Linked DNA regions of Homo sapiens. The protein of the gene in region 2 interacts with the protein of the main gene of each other region in a biochemical or structural test. Each region holds a gene or a part of one and is shown on either strand. Other genes may lie near its edges.

Region 1 (3,500 bases), on a different chromosome or scaffold from region 2:
GTATGTGTGTATATGCTTAAGTGGCATTCAACCTTCCATTAAATTATCCTACTTGCTATACATTTAATTTGAAATAAAAATTTAAAAACCAAAAGGGTTTCTCCTGACCTACCTCTAACCTAAATATGCATTCCCACAAATATTTCTAGGCAAGAGTAGTTTTTCCATGCTTCTCTCATAAATATTCTATGTTCACATTTTGACTCAAAACTATGCTATAGACAAGATAAAAGAAATCATTTTTCTATAAATTACTTATCCAAAACTTCCTGGATGCATTAATATCAGGCTGCTTTAATTAAGTTTAAATGAAAATTGAATGTTTTAAATTATTTAAATCTTCCATTTAGCTAATTAGTTCTCATTAGAGGCTGCTCATTCTTAACATGCTAAAACATTTGGTGAAATTCTTCAAGTCACTTCAGAAACTGCTTAAAATTCAGTCCCTAGAGTTTCTCCCTAAAGAGCTCTTTCCTGCACTTTCAATACCTTTCTTCACAACTCAAAAAGAGAAGAAATGACAATGGACAGGCTGAAAATGAAGACCCTATACACTATCCTTCCCAGCAAACTGGCTTTCTATGCCATGAACATCCAACCCTACACCCATGACCACCACTAGGAGGGGCACACAGATGTCATAACAAGTAATATATTTCATTTCACTAACTTTTTAGCCACACAAAAGTAAGCCAAGTTATTAAAAGTAAGCGCCTGTTTGGATTACGGGGCCCAATTCCAATACCAAAGAACAAGCCTTTCCAGGGAGTGGTGTGTTATTTGTAGCTTAATCAAATGCAGATAAATCTTCTTTGAAAGGCTCCCTTTTTGTGGAGCTATTTTTGTACCACTAGTGTGTTAGCCTATACTTTGATTTTAACTCTGACCTGTGAAATCATAACCCAAGGACAAAGGATGATTTCTTATCATCCTCATTTTATTAAAGCTGCCCAGGCCTTTATAGTAATAAGTTCTGTTTTAAAAAATCAAGCAGATAATTCAAACGTTCACTTTTAATAGCCTTACCTCATGAGGCCACCTCATTAAATTTTCTCCACCAGCATCTCAGAAGGTTGACATTTCAATCATGGAATGCTGTCCTCCTTTCATAACTAAAGAAACATCTGCGCAAAACACAGCTGTGGCCAGAATATCCACAGCCTAATATTTAAAGAGTCTACTTCCTGATTCAAAAACAATCGCTTCTAAGGTGATAATTTAGCCAGAAAAGCAGCATTTCTTTCTTTTTTTTTTTTTTTTAAGAGATGGGGTCTCACTATGTTGCTCAGGCTGGCAGGCTGGCTTTTCAGTTCAACTGCAGGCCTCAAGCAATCCTGTCGCCTCAGCCTCAAGAGTAGCTGGGACTACAAGCACACCCAGCTGGAAAAGCAGCATTTAATTTAAACATTCAGCAAATAATTACACAGTACAAAGGCCTGTGTGATAATGAATATAAATATATTCTTCTCCTCAGAGACATGCACATTATGATGTGATAGTCAAAATCTTTCTCGCTGTAGGACGTCCTCCAGACAGAGCCCGGGTTACTAGACATCCTTCTAGGGGCTTTGCAGTCTCTCTCATTCTATACTTCCCCAAAGTGGAGCTGACGAGATGGAGTCAGTCCTTCTCCCTTTCTCCTTTCCCCTTCAGTGTTTGTCCACCTCTTTGTTGCGTACTTCCACCTTCCCTTGCTCCTCCCATCCTGGTTCTACTTGTGAAATACAGACCTTGAGACCTTCTCTATCTTCCCAGAAATCGCATCATTCTCACAGCTTTATTAGTCTCTTTGGGAAAATTCCCAAATTTAAGAACCTCAAATGTATGTGATATCTAACAGTGATGTAAATATCCCTTAAATTTCTTAAATTCAATCTGGCCAAAATGGAATGCCTGATCTTCCCACCAAAGCCAATTATTCCACCCTCCTTCCTTATTTCAGTTAAGAGCTCCAGTAGGCTCACCACAACCTAAGCTGTCTTAAGGACTTCTTTGATCCCTCTTTTTCCTCAGCACCCCTCCACGCCACCCTCCTGTGTTGCCAGGTCACATGGCTTCAGATCGCTTCTTTCCATCACCATTGTCACCATCCTAATCCAGGTACTTGTTTCTTTCCCCTGAATTTTTTTTTTTTTTTTTTTTTTTTTAGACAGAGTCTTGCTCTGTAGCCCAGGCTAGAGTGCAGTGGCGCAATCTCAGCTCACTGCAACCTCCACCTACCAGGTCCTGGTTCAAGCAATTCTCCTGCCTCAGCCTCCCAAGTAGCTGGGATTATAGGAACACGCCACCATGCCCAGCTAATTTTTGTATTTTTAGTAGAGACGGGGTTTCAACATGTTGGCCAGGCTGGTCTTGAACTCCTGGCCTCGTGATCCACCTGCCTCGGCCTCCCAAAGTGCTGTGATTACAGGCGTGAGCCACTATGCCTGGTCCCCCCTGAATTTTTTTAAGTGGGCTCTTATCTCCTTAACAACCCCTCTTAAATGATGCTACTGTATTAATTTTTTGAGAAGGATATATGTCCTCTGCAACTAGATGACTTGGTTTCAAACTCCAGCTCTGCTACTTTTACTTCTGTGACCTTGGGCAAGTGACCCAGCTTCTCTATGCCTTTTTGTACAATAAGGATAATAGTGCCTGTCTCACAGAATTGTTGTGAAAACACAATGAATTAATAGTTATAGAGCACCTAGAACAGCATCTGGCACACATTTAAATGCTCAATAAATGTTTCCCATTGTTTGTAATTAGCACAAATCAAGTCATACCATGGCTGCCCCAAATCCCTCAAGAGTCCCATGGTGTACCAAAGAAACTGCAGGTTTCTCACCCTGACATTCATTCTGTCCCCAGCCAACATCTCAATTTCACATTCTCCATCCCCTACATGTTCCCTGAATACACACCAGGCAAACTGGAGGACTTACTGTTCCCTGAACACACGTCCCAAGCCTCTCCCCTCCTCACACTTGCTGTTTTCCAAGATCCCTCCTCTCATGTCTCTGCCTGATAAGACCTTGTCCATCCTTCAAGCCAATCTTAACTCTTCCACGAAGCCTTTGCTGAACGCTTCCACCAGATGTGCCCCTACCTGCCTGTGAATGCCTCTCCTAGCATAGAGGTTGTATTTCTCTTTGGGCAGGTATCTTTCCTATACCTCAAACTGCAGTTCTGTTATTTTCCCTACAGGCTTGGAGCTCTTTGAAGGTAACATATGCATTCAACATTGTTTTATTCTCTGCATCACCTAGCACCATGTAATATGTTGGGGTAACAAAAAAGATGGAGTTGGAGGTGTCAGAGCCACAGCCATTACTGTGGCACAGTAGGGTAAGTTCAAACTAAGAAAAGTACACACTCTGCCCAGGCTGAAGTCCTCATCGTATTTCAAATGTCAATCCCAACTCACAATATAAATTGGATGGATTCTCCAGCAAGTCTTTCCTTATAAGATACCAGAAAAACAGTAGACTATAAGAGGAATATGATTTGTAGGCCTA
Region 2 (3,056 bases):
CTGACAAGTTTTTACCAAGAAGAGATTCAGGTGAGTTGCCCTGAGCCAGCTCCAATTAGCTGCTCAGATTTCCATCACTAGCTTGCCTGAAGTAAAGAGATTTTATAAACTACTCCAGTAAGGGCAGGAATATATAACTCCCTTTTCTCTATTCCCCATAGTGCTTTGGGTTCAATCTATGTTTGGTGAATTGATTAAGGGTTTAGTTGGCCAGGAAATCGTATTAAGTGCTAACAACAGGTTTTCAAGGGATCAGTGTCACAAGTGCTTTGTTTGTTCAGTCATCTGTCTTAGCAATATTTTTCTGGCTCTGCAAAGAATTGTGCTCTCTGCTTCCCTCTTAGGAGCGGGATGAAAAGATTGAAGAGCTAGAAGCTCTCTTGCAGGAAGCCAGACAACAGTCAGTGGCCCATCAGCAATCAGGGTCTGAATTGGCCCTACGGCGGTCACAAAGGTTGGCAGCTTCTGCCTCCACCCAGCAGCTTCAGGAGGTTAAAGCTAAATTACAGCAGTGCAAAGCAGAGCTAAACTCTACCACTGAAGGTGAGGAAAGAGACAGGCAGGAAACATAACAGTGGTTCAGGGAAGAGCTGTTACTTAAACCCAGGCCTTCTAACTCCTGCTCTAACATAATTTCCTAAACTGCAAGCTACATCCCCCTGACATTTCAATCTAGGATACACATAGCCTCACTTTTTATATTTGCTGCAAGCTACTGTTACCTCAGTTAAAGAGGTTAGTCCAAGGCTAAAAAAACCCCACATATTTTAAGTTTCCTGTTTCCTTCCCTCAGAGTTGCATAAGTATCAGAAAATGTTAGAACCACCACCCTCAGCCAAGCCCTTCACCATTGATGTGGACAAGAAGTTAGAAGAGGGCCAGAAGGTAATTACCACCATTCTCTGTTTACCAAACTCTTACCTAAGGCAATTTCCCACATCCAACACTCTATCACTGGTTCATGTGAAGACAAGATGTTTTTTGTGCACAGTTCTGGAGAGTGGCTATTTCACTCAGCTGACTAGCCTTTCTAATTTTACTTCTCTTCAAATGGCTACCTGACCCCTCCAGATCATTATCCTGGTTGCTCTTGGCCACAATATGATTCCTACTTCCCCTTTTTCAGAATATAAGGCTGTTGCGGACAGAGCTTCAGAAACTTGGTGAGTCTCTCCAATCAGCAGAGAGAGCTTGTTGCCACAGCACTGGGGCAGGAAAACTTCGTCAAGCCTTGACCACTTGTGATGACATCTTAATCAAACAGGTTAGGGCAAACTATATACCCACTTCTGTCCTACCAGCCCACTCCAGTGTATATGTGAGAAAGGAAAGAGGACCAGAAGAAAAAGGTAAAGATTTTTAGGCTGAATTTATAGTGAGAGCAGTATATTTGCAAAATAAAAATAACTATTCTTTGTTAAGCATTTACTAAGTACCAGGCACTGTGCTAAGTAATTTATAGGCATTTTCTGTCACAACCACCTTAGGGAGGTAGTTACTGTCATATTTCATCTAAGATGCTACTGATTATAAGAAACCATTATTTTATGTACTACTAAGAAAAAAGTAACAATTTCTCATCAGTAAGATGCATCCTGATTCCAAAGAGATTAAAATGTTAAAATTGTGTATCTTAAACTAAACTCAACATTTAATTTGACATTTAGAGACTGAGGCACTTAGAAATTAAATTTACTCAAGCTCATACTACCTTATGTGTTAGAAGATGTCCTATTCAGCACTGCTTATGTTTTGTTCTCAGAAAATGTCCCCTTATTCAGTTATAAGCTCCGACCTTAAAGAGTTTTAATCTTTGAAGAAACAGTTGTTAGTAACTAGTAATGGATGGTATGTATTACCCTTAGCCCTCTCGTTTCTCTAATATACCAGACAAAAGTGTTTTCTATAACTTTATTGATCTTCCTTAGGACCAGACTCTGGCTGAACTGCAGAACAACATGGTGCTAGTGAAACTGGACCTTCGGAAGAAGGCAGCATGTATTGCTGAGCAGTATCATACTGTGTTGAAACTCCAAGGCCAGGTTTCTGCCAAAAAGCGCCTTGGTACCAACCAGGAAAATCAGCAACCAAACCAACAACCACCAGGGAAGAAACCATTCCTTCGAAATTTACTTCCCCGAACACCAACCTGCCAAAGCTCAACAGACTGCAGCCCTTATGCCCGGATCCTACGCTCACGGCGTTCCCCTTTACTCAAATCTGGGCCTTTTGGCAAAAAGTACTAAGGCTGTGGGGAAAGAGAAGAGCAGTCATGGCCCTGAGGTGGGTCAGCTACTCTCCTGAAGAAATAGGTCTCTTTTATGCTTTACCATATATCAGGAATTATATCCAGGATGCAATACTCAGACACTAGCTTTTTTCTCACTTTTGTATTATAACCACCTATGTAATCTCATGTTGTTGTTTTTTTTTATTTACTTATATGATTTCTATGCACACAAAAACAGTTATATTAAAGATATTATTGTTCACATTTTTTATTGAATTCCAAATGTAGCAAAATCATTAAAACAAATTATAAAAGGGACAGAAAAATTAAGAATCAAACATCATTCTGGACCATGGGAACCTTGAAAAGGCATGGCAGTGGAGACCAGTAACTAGTATACAGCTTGCCTGAGAAGGCTTAGTAACAAATGAATTCAAGTCGTATTAGATATTCTAAACCTTCCTTAATATAAGATGAAGTGTCATATGTTAGGAGGTAAAAACGTAACACAAAATTCTGGGAATAAGAATAAAGTCTGGACCCTGAGCTCAGAATGATCCATAGCATCTACTGTGCAAATATATTACAGCAGACATTATAGCATATTACCTCCTGCTGTACACACATGCACAGGCCTGAAACTCTCCAAGAGCACCATAAGAATGATTCCCTTTACCTCATCTAGATAAAGGCTGAAAAAAATGTATTCTGTTGCAGATGGGAGGGAAAAAAATAGACAATTACGTTGAAAATTTATTAAAACAGACCAGCTTGAAGTGAGTTTATTCTTGTCTGTATAATCACCAATGTTATTTCCAAATGTCCG

Evidence for each region. The genes of interacting proteins can lie anywhere in the genome.
Region 1: the proteins of KIF20A (region 2) and CDC14A form a complex in vitro, tested with the Homo sapiens proteins (one study listed by BioGRID).

The regions. Positions count from the first base shown.
Region 1 is NC_000001.11:100,355,506-100,359,005, reverse strand, and holds part of CDC14A (dual specificity protein phosphatase CDC14A), read right to left. Parts: intron 1-3,500. UniProt on the Homo sapiens protein: Dual-specificity phosphatase. Required for centrosome separation and productive cytokinesis during cell division. Dephosphorylates SIRT2 around early anaphase.
Region 2 is NC_000005.10:138,185,168-138,188,223, forward strand, and holds the end of KIF20A (kinesin-like protein KIF20A), read left to right. Parts: coding exon 1-30; intron 31-344; coding exon 345-543; intron 544-793; coding exon 794-885; intron 886-1,126; coding exon 1,127-1,264; intron 1,265-1,928; coding exon 1,929-2,246; 3' UTR 2,247-2,556; downstream 2,557-3,056. UniProt on the Homo sapiens protein: Mitotic kinesin required for chromosome passenger complex (CPC)-mediated cytokinesis. Following phosphorylation by PLK1, involved in recruitment of PLK1 to the central spindle. Interacts with guanosine triphosphate (GTP)-bound forms of RAB6A and RAB6B.